2 linked regions of the Homo sapiens genome follow. The protein of the gene in region 2 interacts with the protein of the main gene of each other region in a pairwise test. Each region holds a gene or a part of one and is shown on either strand. Other genes may lie near its edges. The genes, in order: PPP6C and TRIM14.

The links.
Region 1: the proteins of TRIM14 (region 2) and PPP6C interact in a two-hybrid assay, tested with the Homo sapiens proteins (one study listed by BioGRID).

The regions. Positions count from the first base shown.
Region 1 is NC_000009.12:125,164,855-125,173,541, forward strand, and holds part of PPP6C (serine/threonine-protein phosphatase 6 catalytic subunit), read right to left. Parts: intron 7,163-8,687; exon of another isoform or gene 7,094-7,162; coding exon of another isoform or gene 7,055-7,093; intron 6,327-7,054; coding exon 6,231-6,326; intron 1-6,230.
Region 2 is NC_000009.12:98,094,665-98,103,351, forward strand, and holds part of TRIM14 (tripartite motif-containing protein 14), read right to left. Parts: intron 5,501-8,687; coding exon 5,267-5,500; intron 366-5,266; coding exon 203-365; intron 1-202.

The sequences.
Region 1 (8,687 bases), about 27 Mb from region 2:
CAGCCTCCCGAGTAGCTGGGACTACAGTCATGTGCCACCATGCCCAGCTAATTTTTGTATTTTTAGTAGAGACGGGGTTTCACCACATTGGCCAGGATGGTCTTGATCTCTTGACCTCGTGATCCGCCCGCCTCGGCCTCCCACAGTGCTGGGATTACAGGCGTGAGCCACCGCGCCCGGCTGGGAAGTGGAATTTTTTTTTTTATCAGAGGCAAGGAAACATCCAGTCTGCCCAGTAGTTCTCAAACTTTTTGGTTTCAGGATTCATTTGTGATCTTAAAAACCAGAGGTCCTGAAAATCTTTTATGTAAGTTTTACAAATCAATATTTACCATATTAGAGATTAAAACTCAGAAGTTTTAAATATTTAAATGAATTTTTAAAAATTAATAACATAGGCCAGGCACGGTGACTCACACCTGTAATCCCAGCTACTTGGGAGGCTGAGGCAGAAGAATCGCTTGAACCCGGGAGGCAGAGGTTGCAGTGAGCTGAGATCACACCATTGCACTGCAGTCTGGGTGACAAGAGTGAAATTCCATCTCAAAAAAACAAATCAATAACATACCCATCAAAAAGTATCACAAACACATTTTAATGAAAAATTAACTTTTCCAAAACAAAAAAATTGTTTAGTGAGAGGAGAATTCACATTGTTTTACATTTTCACAAATCTCTTCAATGTCTGGCTAAATAGAACATGGCTAGTCTTAGAACTTGCCTCTGCACTCAGTCTGTTGGGAATATACTAAGTAAAGCAGATGAAGAAAATCCAGCTTCACAAAGATATGCAGTTACAAAAGGAAGGAGTATTTTAATAACATTTTCAGGTAACTGTGCATACTCTTTAAATACTGTACCAAAATTTGACAAGTGGCAGTTTATGACACTTAAAAGTTAATCGCAATATGAAATCTGAAACCATAACAGTAATCTTTTGCTTTTTTTTTTTTTTTTTTGGAGACAGGATCTCTCCCTGTTGTCCAGGCTGGAGTACAGTGGCACATTCTCAGCTCAGTGCAACCTCCACCTCCCAGGTTCAAGCAATTCTCATGCCTCAGCCACCTAAGTAGCCGAGATTACAGGCACGTACCTCCACACCTGGCTAATTTTTGTATTTTTAGTAGAGACAGGGTTTCACCATGTTGCTCAGGCTGGTCTCAAACTCCTGGGCTCAAGCGATCCGCTTGCCACGGCCTCCCAAAGTGCTGGGATTGCAGGTGTGAGTCACCAGGCCTGGCCTATAATAGTCATCTTTCATACCCTGTTACATTTGTTATCTTACACTTTGAGTAAATGGTAAACTAGTAATTTGAAAAATGAAAATGACATTGCATTTTATATCATCAAAAAACCATATTTGTTAATATCACTGCTCATTTCATCTCAGGAAAGTCTTTTAAGTGTCGGAAACTGTTAGCCCCATAGTGGTGGACTCAGATTTTCCAAAATTCCAATTTTTCATTAGTAAATTCAAATTTTGTCATCGGCAACAAATACTGTCAATTGTTCTCCTTGAAGTGACTGGCCCACTTCCTTCACTTTTGCAAATATAGTTGCCAAATACCCAAGTCTAAATAATCACAGTTTGTCAGTCATTCTCAAGTAAAAATAGTGTTCCATAAAAAAGCAGTTATTTTAACTCATGACTCAAAGAATTTCACAAGTATTTTTCTTTTTCTTTTTTTTTTTTTTTTTAGCAGAGTCTCACTCTGTCACCCAGGCTGGAGTGCAATGGTGAGATCTCAGCTTACTGCAACATCCGCCTCCCAGGTTCAAGTAATTTTCCCTGCCTTAGTCCCTGAGTAGCTGGGATTACAGGCACCCACCACCACACCTGGCAATTTTTTATATTTTTTAGTAAAGATGGGGTTTTGCCATGTTGGCCAGGCTGATCTTGAACTCCCGACCTCAGGTGATCTGGTGCTGGGATTACAGGTGTGAGCCACCGTGCCCAACCCACAACTACTTTTCCTTGAGTAAACTATCTTTCTTCAGCATGCAGTAGATATGCTTTATGCATACTTCCCATTTCATCACACAGACTTTTTTCTTTTTCTTTTTAGATGGGGTCTCACTCTGCTGCCCAGGCTGGAGTGCAGTGGCACAATAATAGCTGACTATAGCCTCAAACTCCTGGGCTCAAGCAATGCTTCCACCTTAGCCTCTTGAGGAGCTAGGACTTACAGACTCACACCACCAAGCCTGGCTAATTTTTTTCTTTTTAATATTTTTAGAGATGGGGGCCAGGTGCAGCGGCTCACACCTGTAGTCCCAGCACTCTGGGAGGCTGAGGCAGGTGGATCACAAGAGGCCAGGAGTTCGAGACCAGCCTGGCCAACAGGGCAAAATCCCATCCCTACTAAAAATACAAAAATCAGCCAGGCGTGGTGGTGCGTGCCTGTAGTCCCAGCTACTCGGGATGCTGAGGCACAAGAATCACTTGAACCCGGGAGGCAGAGGCTGCAATGAACTGAGATCACACCACTGCACTCCAGCTTGGGTGACAGAGCGAGACCCTGTCCAAAAAAAAAAAAAAAAAAAAGAAATAAAAAAAAGGCCGGGCATGGTGACTCACGCCTGTAATCCCAGCACTTTGGGAGGCCGAGACAGGAGACAGGAGGATCACATGAGGTCAGGGGTTCAAGACCAGCCTCAGCAACATGGAAAAACCCCATCTCAACTAAAAATACAAAAAGTTAGTCAGGCGTGGTGGCACATGCCTGTAATCTCAGCTACTCAGGAGGCTGAGGCAGGAGAATCGCTTGAACCTGGGAGGCAGAGGTTGCAGTGAGCCAGGATCGTGCCATTGCACTCCAGCCTGGATAACAAGAGAGAAACTCTGTCTCAAAAAAAAAAAATTTTTTTTTTTTAGAGATGGGGAGTCTCAGGCCGGACGCAGTGGCTCACGCCTGTAATCCCAGCACTCTGGGAGGCCAAGGCAGGTGGATCACCTGAGGTCAGGAGTTTGAGATGGGGGGGGGGGGGGGGGGTATCATTTGGTTGCCCAGGCTGGTCTTGAACCCATGGCTTCAAGCGATCCTCCCACCTCAGCCTCCCAAAGTGCTGGGATTATAGGCATGAGCCATCATGCCCAGCCAGACTTTTCAAATAATGGATATTCTAAAGGATTGAGAGTTAAGTGAAACTGGCATTTTATTTTACTGTGCAGGCATGTTGGTGAAGAACTCAATGATAATCAGTATATTCTAGTGTCATTCCCTTGGTTCATGCTAAGGCACGAGCAGTTTTACCCTCCATTGCCTCTGTACCACCTTAGAGACCCAAGGGTCCACAGGCCACACTTAACGAATTTGTGAGCTAGCTGAAATGGCTTCTTAAACAACTAATATATAGCCAAGCCAGGATTTAAACCAAGTTGTATCTGACACTGAAATCTATAACTCCTCACTATATTACACAGCTTCAATACTTCTCAGCACAACATGCTTGCTAACATGTTTATTCATACTCATAACCCAATCCTGCAATTCCAGAACAGGCCCCAGAGGAAGATAAGTCCCAAAGGATACATTTTACATTGTATTTAATCAGTCAATAGCTATTTAGAGGCTCAAATCCCATGTTTCTGATTAGCAATCTTCTGTTTTTCATTTTTTTGAGACGGAGTTTCGCTCTTGTTGCCCAGGCTGGAGTGCAATGGCGCGATCTCGGCTCACCACAACCTCCGTCTCCCAGGTTCAAGCAATTCTCCTGCCTCAGCCTCCTAAGGAGCTGGGATTACAGGCGCCTGTCACCACACCTGGCTAATTTTTGTATTTTTAGTAGAGACGGGGTTTCACCATATTTGCCAGGATGGTCTCGATCTCTTGCCCTCGTGATCCACCCACCTCAGCCTCCCAAAGTGCTGGGATTACAGGCATGAGCCACCACACCCGGCTTATTTTTTATTTTTTATTTTTTCGAGACAGAGTCTCACTCTATTGCCCAGGCTGGGGTGCAATGCATGATCTCGGTTCACTGCAACCTCTGCCTCCCGGGTTCTAGCGATTCTCCTGCCTCAGCCTCCCAAGTAGCTGGGATTACAGGCACGCACCACCACACCTGGCTAATTTTTGTATTTTTCGTAGAGACAGGGTTTCACCATGTTGGCTAGGCTGGTCTTGAACTCCTGACCTTCTGATCTGCCTGCCTCAGCCTCCCAAAGTGCTGGGATTACAGGCGTGAGCCACTGCACCTGGAACAATTGTTTTTTAAGGAACACATACAACATAAACAATTGTTCACGGTTTGGTGGTGGTCTTAAAATAACATGTACAAAAGAAACCCAAATTAGTTTCAAATCTCAATCTGCCCTGTAGTAGCTGTGTGTGAGTTTGGGCTATTTCTCTTCAATCTTTCAGTCTCCCTTTCATTGTCTACAAAATAATCCTATCTCACAGGACTTTGGGAAAAAACTGACACAGAATATGTGAAAAAGTACTTTGTTAACCTCAAAACACAAGATATATGTTAGCAAGAACTGCACATTTGACTGAAGGTATATATAATACAAAAGTTCAATTTTATGCTTCCAATTTTAGTAGTTCGAGGTTGGTCTCTAACTTTCTGACCTTTGATCATGGCTGTACTTCACATCTTAAAAAGTCTACAACTGGGGGAAACACTACACTGGGGGAAAACATGACTTGGTTTATTCCAGTTTTCAGGAATGTGTTAAGACACTGCTTATATTAATATCCTTTATGTTAGCAAAATACAAATGTTTACTTTGAGAGAGAAGTTACATAGAAACTTCTACACTACACTGGGGGAAAACATGACTTGGTTTATTCCAGTTTTCAGGAATGTCTTAAGACACTGCTTATATTAATATCCTTTATGTTAGCAAAATACAAATGTTTGAGAGAGAAGTTACATGGAAATTTTAGGAAATCAATTCCTAAAGTCTACTCTAAAGAACTGTAATTTTAACAATCAAAGATGACATAATGGGACCTCCATCTAGGAGGTGATGACATGCAAGTGTCAGATTTTTTTATAATCTAAAAAATCCAGAAAACACCTTGAAAAACCAAAAGAAAATCAGCCTGTAAGTAAGTAGCCAAAACAAGACTTTACTCATGGAGCAGCCCCTAATCAGAGTCAATTTACACACATTTCTGCTCATTTACACAGTCATATTTAAAGCAGGGAAATTGCACAGGTGACAGTAAGTCCTGTTGGCATCCTTTAAAGACTACATTGTTTGCAATGTATTATTAAGTCTTATGGCCCCAACTACACTGTATGCATATAGCACTCTATGAGTAATCTGTTCAGCTTTCATTTCCCAGTGAAAAAATTCTACAAATATACATGAGACTAAACACTGACAACAGAATCTAAATATGAGGTATGCCCCTCCTGTTACTGCTTTGAAATTCTTTTTTTTTTTTTTAGACAGAGTCTTGCTCTGTTGCCCAGGCTGGAGTGCAGTGGTGCGGTCTCGGCTCACTGCAACCTTCACCTCCCGGGTTCAAGAGATTCTCCTGCCTCAGCCTCCTGAGTAGCTGGGATTACAGGCACGCACCACCATGCCCAGCTAATTTTTTTGTATTTTCAGTAGAGACGGGGTTTCACCATGTTGGTCAGGCTGGTCTCAAACTCCTGACCTCACGATCCACCCGCCTCAGCCACCCAAAGTGCTGGGACTACAGGTGTGAGCCACCACGCCCGGCACTGCTTTGAAATTCTTACAAACACCCAGCAGATGAAAAATTGAGCTAAATATTTTCTAGCTCATTCATCAGTGATTTGCTGTGACATCATGGACCAACAATTTTATTTTTCTGTACCTTTGCTATTCTCATTCCCACTAAAGAAATGATAAATTTTCAACAATATATGACAGGAGAACAGAAATGAACTGAATGAAAAAAGTGCCTAACACCAAAACATCTCCTGTTAATCATAGTTATTATGAGCAGTATGTGTTTGTACTTTATATCTTCTACCTACCCCCAACCCCACCATTCCACAGAAAACTAATGCTGCATTATTCACTTCACAAATGTAATTATCAACAAATTCCATCACTAATTTGACCACTGCTTTTATTCACCAAAAATGTAAACCAGGAATCATTTGTGTCACAGAGACTGAGGCAACCTAGCTTACCACCAGTTGTGTTTGTTGATGTTGTTGTTGTTTTAATTTTGCAGCACATGTGAAAACACACATGGATCATGGACAGTACAAAACTTAAAAATCTGCTCATGAAATTTTACCTGTCCATGGATATCTCCACACACTGTTACTGGTGTTGATACTGGCTGAACATTTGACTCTTCTAAGAGGAGGTCACAAACGTAGTCACATAGCCGCTATAAAAAGAGAAAATAAAAGGTAAACATTTACTACAACATTAAAACTAAAGATAAAATACCAAAAAAGAAAAATACCAGGTCTAATACTTACAAAACCCAAGTATACTTTTTGATAGGAAAGTACCCTGTGATAATTCGGGGGTTGGATTTCTGTCAGCTGTCACACAGAATTCTTAATGCAATGCAAACTACCTACAGAGACACTAAGGTTCTAGGAGACAGACAGCTTTACAAGAACTGTAAAATGATGTTTTTCACCAAACACACACACACATATACACACACACACACACACATATATATATATATATATATATATATATATATATATATGAAGAAATAATTTTAACAGTAAAAGGTTTTTGGGTTTTTTTGTTTTTTTTTTTTTTAAACGGAGTCTCACTCTGTCTCCCAGGCTGAAATGCAGTGACACGATCTCGGCTCACTTCTACCTCCATCTCCCAGATTCAAGCAATTTTCCTGCCTCAGCCTCCCAAGTAGCTGGGGTTACAGGCATGTGCCACCACACCCGGCTAATTTTTGTATTTTTAGTAGACACAGGGTTTTACCATGTTGGCCAGGCTGGTCTTGAACTCCTGACCTCAGGTGATCCACCCACCTCAGCCTCCCAAAGTGCTGGGATTACAGGCGTCAGCCACCGTGCCCAGCCAGTAAAAGATTTTTATCTGGTAATTTAAAAAATAAATTGCAAACCACACACTTACCATTTGACCCAGCAACTGTAGTCTTGGCAATAAAAACATGTTCAAAATCTGTATATAAATACTCGCAGAAGCCTAATGCATCATAGCCCAAAACTAAAAACAAATCAGATATCCTTCAATGAGTGAATGGTTAAACACATTTTGGTACATCCACACCATGTAATACTACTCAGCAATAAAAAGAAACGAATACTGCCACACAACAACCTGGATTCATCTCAAGGCATTTATGTTGAGTGAAAAAAATGAAACAACAGAAAACTGTCCCAAAAGGTTATATACTGTATAATTCCATTTATATAACCTTCTTTTTTTCCCTTTTTTTTTGAGACAGAGTCTTGGTCTGTTGCCCAGGCTGGAGTCCAGTAGCACAATTTCAGTTCACTGCAAACTGCCTCCCAGTTCAAGTGATTCCCTTGCCTCAGTCTCACAAGTACCTGGGATTACAGGCACACACCATCATGCCCAGCTAATTTTTGTATTCTTAGTAGTTTCACCATGTTGGTCAGGCTGGTCTCAAACTCCCAACCTCAGGTGATCTGCCCGCTTCGGCCTCCCAAAGTGGTGGGATTACAGGCATTGAGCCACTGCACTCGGCCGTGTTTACACATTCTTGAAATGACAAAATTAAAGAAATGGAGAACGGATTAGTTGTTGTCAGGGGTCCAGCAGTTGCAGGAAGGAAGTGGGTGTGGCTATAAAAGGGCAACATGAGGAATTCTTGTGATGATGGACCTGTTCTGTATTTTGACTATAGAGTTGGATACATGAGCCCTTACCCAATAAAACTGCAAAGAACTGAATACACACAAACACACACACACACACACACACACACACACAAACACACACACACACACACAAACACAAGTAAAACTGAAGAAATCTGAACATCATGAGGTGATGATCTTGGGTTGTACCTAAAGATCATGAGTTGTATCAGTGTCAATGTTGGCTGATGTTGTATTGGTTGTGGCATTACACTATAGTTCTACAAAATGTTACCACTGGGGAAAACTGGGTTATTTTGAAATAAAAAGGCTAACTATAATTAATTATAAAATTCAAATCTAAAACTGAGGAGCCAGCTGGGCACGGCGGCTCTCGCCTGTAATCCCAGCATTTTGGGAGGCCAAAGTGGGTGGATCATTTGAGGTCAGGAGTTCAAGACCAGCCTGACCAACATGGCAAAACCCCCTATCTCTACTAAATATAAAAATTAGGCTGGGCATGGTGAATCACGCCTGTAATCCCAGAACTTTGGGAGGCTGAGGTGGGTGGATCACAAGGTCAGGAGTTCAGGACCAGCCTGGCCAACGTAGTGAAACCCCGTCTCTATTAAAAATACAAAAATTAGCTGGGCGTGGTGGCAGGTGCCTGTAATCCTCAGCTGAGGCTGAGGCAGGAGAATCACTTGAATCTGGGAGGCAAAGGTTGCAGTGAGCCGAGATTGCACCCATTGCACTCCAGCCTGGGCAGCAGAGAGACTCCCTCTCAAAAAAAAAAAAAAAAAAAAAAAAAGTAGCCAGGCGTGGGGTGCACAGCTGTAATCCCAGCTACTCGGGAGGATGAGGCAAGAGAATCGCTTGAACCCAGGAGACAGAGGTTGCCGAAAACCGAGGTCGCGCCACTG
Region 2 (8,687 bases):
AAGGGCAGGTCTCAGTCTCAGGAAGGGTTGGAGGTGAAGTGGTGAGGGTGGGTTGGGCACCAGGCCCAGGAGCCCCTGACCGCCCAGCCAAGGGCCTCAGTGTGGGAGAGACAGGATGTAGGGAGATGATCTTTGCATTCGTCTCTGGGCTAAAGGACACTAGGGGAGTTAAGGACACAAAGTTGGTCACTCGGCGACTTACTTTCCTTAAGGCGAATGTCCAATGGCGTCTGTAATGTACTCTCCACGGCTTCCACGAGGCCCTTAAAGAAGCTCTTGACGGGCTCAAAGGAGAGGGGCACGGGATGGCACAGCTCCCCGAGGCTCATCTGCTGCTGCATCTCCTGCTCGGTGGCCGTGTATGCCTGTGTGGGCACACGGGGGTGAGGGTGGCTCTGGGAGATGCAGGCAGCATCCCAGCCTCCTGTGCTGCACCCAGGAACAAACCCACACCAGCATGCCCAGGCTCCACGTTGGCCTGGCACCTATGGTCAGCCCAGGCCATGCCTGCAGGAGCAGAGCCCTGGAGAGACCATACGGCATCCCTGAGGTGGGAGCCATGCGGAGGTGCGGTTTTTCAGTGCTGGCACTGGGGATTCCTCCCTCTCCATCCTTCCTCCTTTCCTTCCTTCCTTACGTGTTCATTGAAACCTACTCTGTGCCAGCTATGCATGCAGAAGGCAGGGTCAGGCTGACACGGGGCCCTTCCCAGAGAGGCTTCAGCCTCACACACACTGCGCCACGGGTCTGCCTTGGGTACAAAAAGGGTGAGAGGTCAGTCTCCCTGGGGAAGGAGCACCTGGAGCTTATTCAAAGGTGGAGCAGGAAACCATGTTCTAAGAAGGACGCCAAAGGCCAGCAAGGTTCAGCTGCAGTGCTGACTGAGGGGGTGTGGCCACCGCAGGGGACATGTGTCCTGTTTTGCACCTGGACAGCCCCTCTTCAATACTTTCCTGTGGTATGTGGCTTCACTAAGGAGAAGCTAGAAAACCCCCTCTCCCAGCTCCCTTTGCACCTGTGCTGCAGGAGTGTGACCAGACGCCTCCAAGCCAAAGCGTGGATTTGGAAATGACGGTGAAGGTAGTGATGGTGGCATGTGGCACTGAGGGACAGCAGTGGTGGGGGCTCTGGTCAGTGGTGTGAGTGGTGATGTCTTGCCCAGCAGGGGTGCCGTGGGGCCTATACTGGCACCAACCCCTGCTGGAGTCTGGACTTCATTCCTGCTGCCCATCTTCCATCCCGACTCTCTGGCCCTCCTGGAGATCCTATGGGCTATCTCATACTCTTCCATAAACTCCTTTCTTGCTTAAAACAGTTCCAGTGGATTCTCATGTTTGCAGGTAAGAACCATGGCTGCATTTTCTGAAGCTCTGTCCTGGCCAGGAGTTGGAAGGAAGATGACTGCCTCAGGTGATCAGGCTTGGCTGGCAGTGGCAGTGCTGCCCACCCGAGAAGGGGTGGACAGATGAGGGCCTCAGGAGGGAGGGAGGGTGGCCTAGCACTTGGCTGTTGGGCAGGGGCAGATCCCACCTGGCAGCATGCTGTACATTGGGAGGGGGCTGTGAGATGGCCTGCAAGCCCCATTCAGCCTAGGAGGCCAGGAGTCTATAGAGTCCAACCTCATTTTGGTGGGGAACCAGGCCTAAGGTCACACCCAGAGCGCTGGAATGGAGCTGGCCAGGGGAGACCAAGCACTAGCAGGAAGTCCAGGGTGGGCAGGGAGCAGCTCCGGGGAGGCGAGAGGGGGCTCAGAGGGCAGATGAGTAGGGTAGGATGAGGGGTCGATAGAGGACACATGGCACCACCTGGTAACCCCAAACTCCAGCAGCTAGCACCAGACCTGACACACAGGTTCTCAAAACATATGTATGATGGAATAAATCAATGCATGAAACCGAGCACAGCCACTTTTTTGCCTTTGCAGACTCAGAGAACAGAAATCCCAGCCCTTCATCTCTCAGGCCAGAAACCCAGGCATCATCTGGGGATTCCTCCTACCCATTCTCCAATTCCAATCTCCATTCCTGTGGCATCTCTTGACCTGCCTGTTTCTCCCCATCCCCACTGCCCCTGTCTTGGTCCAGGCCACCATCATCTCTCTCCTGGACATTGTGGCCTCCTCCCAAGTTCTCTTCCAGCCTCCCATCCTGGCCTCCTCTGTCCATCTTCCACTCTATCTCTAAAGTGACTTTTCTAAAGCACTAATCTGACCATGTGAATGCTTTCATCCCTCAGTTCAAAACACTCCCCTGGGCTGGGTGCAGTGGCTCACACCTCCCAGCTCTTTGGGAGGCCAAGGTGGGCAGATCACTTGAGGTCAAGAGTTTGAGACCAGCCTGGCCAACATGGTGAAACACTGTCTCTACTAAAAATACAAAAATTAGCTGGGCATGGTGGCACGTGCTTGTCGTCTCAGCTCTTCCAGGGGCTGAGGCAGGAGAATCCCTTGAACCTGGGAGGCAAAGGTTGCAGTAAGCTGAGATTGAGCCACTGCATTCTAGCCTGGGCAATAGAGTGAGACCCTGTCTCAAAAACAAACAAACAAACATTCCTGTCTCCTATCTCATTACAGGACAAAGTCTGAACTCCATGGCACATAAGGCCTTCATGAACTAACTATGGCCTATGGATCCAGCTGTGTCTCTCAATCCCCCCACCCTTATACCCTCACCTCTCCTCAAGTCAGGCTGCACCCCAGCTGGTTCCCCAGCCTGTCAAGCTCTCACATGTACACAGTTCCTGTCTGTCCTCTCTGCGTCCTCTCTATATACAGTGTGCTCCTACTCATTGTCCAGCACCCAACCCTACCATCACCTCTTCCTAGAAGTCTTCCCAGACTGCATCCTTCTCCCAGCCAGAGAGTGTCAGACATTTCTTGGACATAATTTTGCTAGCTTCATATTTACAAAATTGTTTAAGCTGTATTGTAAATAACTGTTTCTGAGCAAGTCCCCCACCCAACTGTGAGCTCCTAATGTCCAGCAAGTGACCTGGCTCAGTACATATTGATGAATAAACGAATGAACACATAGAAGGTGGGAACGGTGAATGATTAAAATCATTAGCTGTGGCCCAAGAGAATTTGAAAAAAAAAGATGACAAAGCCCTGAAACCGTTTTCTGATGTGAGAATAGCATGCTTCTCCATGGAAGGATTCCTTTGTATTCCATAGCCTTAAAAACGACCATTATTTAAAAAGAGACAATTACATGTAACACTTTGTGCATCTTGCCTCTCTTAAAGCACAACACCCATTATGCCTAGGAAAACACTTCATCCAGAATTTGGCTCAAACAGCTGACAATGAGACACAGGCTGAACCGACTGAGGCCACATAAAGACACAAGAGTGGAAATCCCCAGCTGGAGACTGGCTTGGCGGGTTTTGTGTTGACTGGCTTATTTGTCTGTCTTATTTTCCAGCCAGAGCCCATACTAATCTGTGGTTAGAGTTGGTGCCACTTTTAGTTGTACCCTGCCTTGTCCCACAGCCTTTAAAGTGTCTTGTGAAGGTCCTCTAATAAGGCAAGATTTTTCTTTATAGCGAGAAAAATGAAGCTAAGAGAAAATTAGACACAAAGTGTTTGCCATGAAGCCTTAGTCTGGTTAGTCAAAGCAGATTTGGCTCTGAACTTCCCAAGGCAAAGAAGGAAACAGGAGGAGCTCTATTAGTGGAAAAGCAATTCTAGTGCAGAAGTGACTGCACAGGGATATTGACACCAGACAACAGTTTCTTCCACGGTTCCCTAAAGACAGGAACACCATCGGCCGGGTGCGGTGGCTCACGCCTGTAATCCCAGCACTTTGAGGGGCCGAGGGGGGCGGATCACGAGGTCAGGAGATGGAGACCATCCTGGCTAACATGGTGAAACCCCATCTCTACTAAAAAATACAAAAAATTAGCTGGGCGTGGTGGGGGGCGCCTGTAGTCCCAGCTACTCGGGAGGCTGAGGCAGGAGAATGGTGGGAGGTGGAGCTTGCTGTAAGCCGAGATCACACCACTGCACTCCAGCCTGGGCGACAGAGCAAGACTCCGTCTCAAAAAAAAAGAAAAAAGTAGACAGGAACACCATCCTCAACAACATGCTTTCTCTAAATGTAGCAATGACTATCCCTGGGGCTAGTTCTTTTCTTTTTTTTGAGACAGAGTCTCACTCTGTTACCCGGCCTGGAGTGCAGTGGCATGATCTCGTTACTCACTGCAATCTTTGCCTCCCCGATTCAAGTGATTCTCCCACCTCAGCCTCACAGGTGCACGCCATCACGCCTGGCTGATATTTGTATTTTTAGTAGAGAGGTGGTTTTGCCATGTTGGTCAGGCTGGTCTCAAACTTCTGGCCTCAAGTGATCTGCCACAGGGGCTATTTCTTAGACTCTTCCTCAACAAAGCCCAGTGGCCAAGGAGTACCATTGAGCCAGCTGTGACTCAGCCTTTGAAATGTGCTCAGTAGCTGCAAGGACACCTGCCTTTTCAGGTGGGGTGTCTCAATTTAAGACTATAAAGGCAGGCTGATTGCGGTGGCTCACACCTATAATCCCAGCACTTTGGGAGGCTGAGGTGGGCGGATCACCTGAGGTCAGGAGTTCAAGACCAGCCTGACCAACGTGGAGAAACCCTGTCTCTACTAAAAATACAAAATTAGCCACGCATGGTGGCACATGCCTGTAATCCCAGCTACTCAGGAGGCTGAGCCAGGAGAACTGCTTGAACCCAGGAGGCAGAGGTTGTGGTGAGCTGAGATCGCACCACTGTACTCCGGCCTGGGCAACAAGAGAGAAACTCCATCTCAAAAAAAAAAAAAAAAAAAAAAGACTGTACAGTCAGAGGGCCAGGCAGGGTCCCTTGTGGGTTTAGAGTCAGACAGACCTAGACAGACAGCCAGACCTGATACCAGCTCTGCTACCTACCTGCTGTGTGAGACCAGGTGAGTCACTTCACTGAGCCTCAATTTCTTGTTTATAAAATGGGGTGAGCCCACTTTGCAGAGTTCTGGTGAATATTAGTGCTAAACTACACAGTGCTCAGGACACAGGGGCCTTTGAAATTGGTGGCTGTTAATATTATTTAATTAGCCCAAGAGGTGTATTATCTTCCTAACAATGTATATTCTCTTGACCACCTGTGTGGGGGCAAGACAGTCTACATGGTGACAAGACAATAGTCCATGTACTTGCTTAGTGTGTCAATACTGTGCTCAATGCCACAATACTTGAGATGAAGTGTGGGTGGCAGGTGGCAGCAGTAAGAGCAGTGACCCCAGCATTACCTGAAGCCTCTGGACAGGATCGGGCTCCTGGCTGATACTCCAGACCCTGTTGGAGAGATCATTCATGATGTCAAGTTGCTCTCTGCAAGAGTCAGCTTGTTCCCTGTACACCTGGAGGGTAAGCTGCGTGTTTTTATCAATGAATTTCTTGGCCAGCGCTTCCTCTTCGTCAAGTAGTAATCTGAGTTCAGTGAATTTCCCCTTCAGCCAGGTTTTACTTGACTCTGCATTAGCCTAAAAACAGAAAAACCAGTTGCAGATGACATGTCTGCCAACCAGGAAATCCAGAATAATCAACATGAAAAAAATCATAACGTCTGAAATGTGAGTTCAGTAAAGTGGCCAGTCAGACACAAGATCAACTTATAAAAACCAAAGCTTTCCTAAGCACCAGCCCATCACCGATCGTAAAATGCACGGAGAAATAAAGATCCTTTTGAAAATGGGAGAAAAAATAGCAAAATATGTGGAAATATACCTAATACAAAACCATATTCGTGACTGGGAGGGTTGATTACTATAAAGTCACTATTTGTCTCTAAATTAGTCTATAAATTTGATGAAATTCTAATCAAAATCTTAACATGCTGATTAAAAATTATTAAATCATTAGGAGAGAGAATAAGCATAAGAAAAGCCAAAATTGCTTTAAAAAAATCAATAAAGAGAAAACTGATAAGAGGTTATCTGCCTTATCTGCCTTATCTGATAACAAAACAATAAATCTACAGGATCTAAAACCATGTGGCTCAAGCATAGATAAGAGGTCAAAAGTACAAAATAAAGAGCTTTTAAAAGAACTCAAATTATATATGGAAATGTATGTATGTGTATGTGTGGTGTAACAGTGGCATTTTAGAACAAATTTTTGTATTTTTTGTACTAAAAATATAAAAGTAAAAATAATTAAAATAATATGAGATTTTCCACAATGAAAGGTTAAGGAAAACAAACAAAAGAGAAGGTCCAGTTAAACTAAAACACTGTACATAAAGCCCAAAGAATAAATCAATTAGATGAAATACAAAACAATTTTTATTTATTTATTTATTTATTTTTATTTTTTGAGAAGGAGTTTCACTCTTGTCCAGGCTGAGTGCAGTGGTGCGATCTTGGCTCACAGCAACCACTGCCTCCCAGGTTCAAGCGATTCTCCTGCCTCAGCCTCCTGAGTAGCTGGGATTACAAGCACGCACCACCACACATAGGTAATTTTGTATTTTTAGTAGAGACGGAGTTTCACCATGTTGGTCAGGCTGGTCTTGAACTTCTGACCTCAGGTGATCCACCTGCCTCAGCCTCCCAAAATGCTGAGATTACAGGCATGAGACACCATGCCCAGCCCAGAAAATAGTTTTTGATCATTAGATTGGAAGACTTTTAAGAGACTGAAATACAGTCTGTAAGGGTATGTGAAGTAGGGCATTTATATAAACTGTGGGTGGTAGGGTCTATTGGTACTTCGCTTTTAGAGGACAATACGACAATAGCTATCAATTTTTTTTTTTTTTTCAGACGAAGTTTTGCTCTTGTCGCCTAGGCTGGAGTGCAATGGCAAGATCTCGGCTCACTGCAACCTCCGCTTCCCGGGTACAAGCGATTCTCCTGCCTCAGCCGTGTAGCTGGGACTGCAGGTGGCCATCACCATGCCTGGCTAATTTTTGTATTTTTAGCAGAGACAGGGAGTCACTGTTGGCCAGGCTGGGTCTTGAACTCCTGACCTCAGGTGATCTGCCTGCCTTGGTCCCCCAAAGTGCTGGATTACAGGCATGAGCCACTGCACCTGGCCTCAAAGTTTTAAATACATTTATTCTTTCATGCAGCAATTCCTCTTACTTTACTTATATCCTAGAAAATGCTTTCACATGTGCATGAAGATTTGTGTACCAAGATTCTCAGTATATAGCTTCTACACATAGAGAATAGAATTGGGCAAGTGTAGTGGTAGGTGTCTGTAATCCCAGCTACTTGGGAGGCTGAGGCTTGAGAATCACTTGAGCCCGGGAGGTGGAGCTTGCAGTGAGCTGAGATCAGGCCGCTGCACCCCAGCCTGGGCGACAATGCAAGACTTTGACTCAAAAAAAAAAAAAAAAAAGAAAAGAAAAAAACATTGAAAAATGGGCGTCACTAGCAGAAACAGAAACAACAGCAGTGGGGAGCGAACGTTCTGAGAAATAGGGTCAACCACAAACAGCTCACTAGCACTCAAGCATCCTGTTACAAGCACTCAACTCACAGTCCACCTGCACCCAGGCATCCTGTCTGCAAGCATTCAGCTCAAGCAGCACAACCTTAGAAAACTCCACCTCCAGCTCCTGCCTCTTTGCAGACAGTCTTCTTTCTGCTGTCTCACCCATTGCTCCCTTTCAATGTATCTCCCCCTTTTCTCTAAATAAATCTGCCTTTCTAAACTCAATGCTGTTTTGGTAAATTATTTTATTCCCCTGTGCACCAGCCTCAGACAGTTGTTAACCATGACATATTTGGCACAATTTTCAATATGGGATATGTATATCGGTTCATTATATAAATTGTCCTACATTCGTACAATGAAATAATTTATAGCGATTACAAAGAATGCAGTGTGCTGATGCATGCTAAACATGGATGAACCTCGAAGACATCATCCCCAGTGAATTAAGCCAGACAAAAAAGGACAAATAATTTATCATTCCGCTTATGTGAAACATCTAGACCAGGCAAATTTATAGAGACAGAAAGTAGAGTCGACGTTACCAAGGGCTGGGAGAGGGGAAATGGGGAGTAATTGCTTGATGGTTTCAGAGTTTCTGTTTGGGATAATGAAAAAGTTTTGGAAGTAGACACAGGTGATGGCTATACAACATTGTGAATATAATTCATACCACTGAATTGAATACTTTAAAATGGTTAAAATGGCAAATTTTATGTTATGTATATTTTATCACCATAAAAAAAAAGAAGAAGAAAATATAACAACAAAAACAATGCAGTAGGCTGGGCGCGGTGGCTCACGCCTGCAATCCCAGCACTTTGGGAGGCTGAGGCGGGCAGATCATGAGGTCAGGAGTTCAAGACCAGCCTGGCCAAGATGGTGAAACCCTGTCTCTACTAAAAATACAAAAAAATTAGCCGGGCGTGTGGCGGGCGCCTGTAATCCCAGCTACTCAGGAGGCTGGGGCAAAGAATTGCTTGAACCCAGGAGGCGGAGGTTGCAGTGAGCCGAGATCATGCCACTGCACTCCAGCCTGGGCAACAGAACGAGACTCCATCTCCAAAAACAAACAACAACAACAAAAAACAATGCAGTAGACCTATATGTCCTGGCAGGGAAAGTTCTCCAGAAAAAAAAAAAACAGGTGAAAAAGAACAAGCTGCAGAATAATATAAGCAAGATAATCCAAATTTATGTAAAACATAATAAAACAAAACCTGTATATGG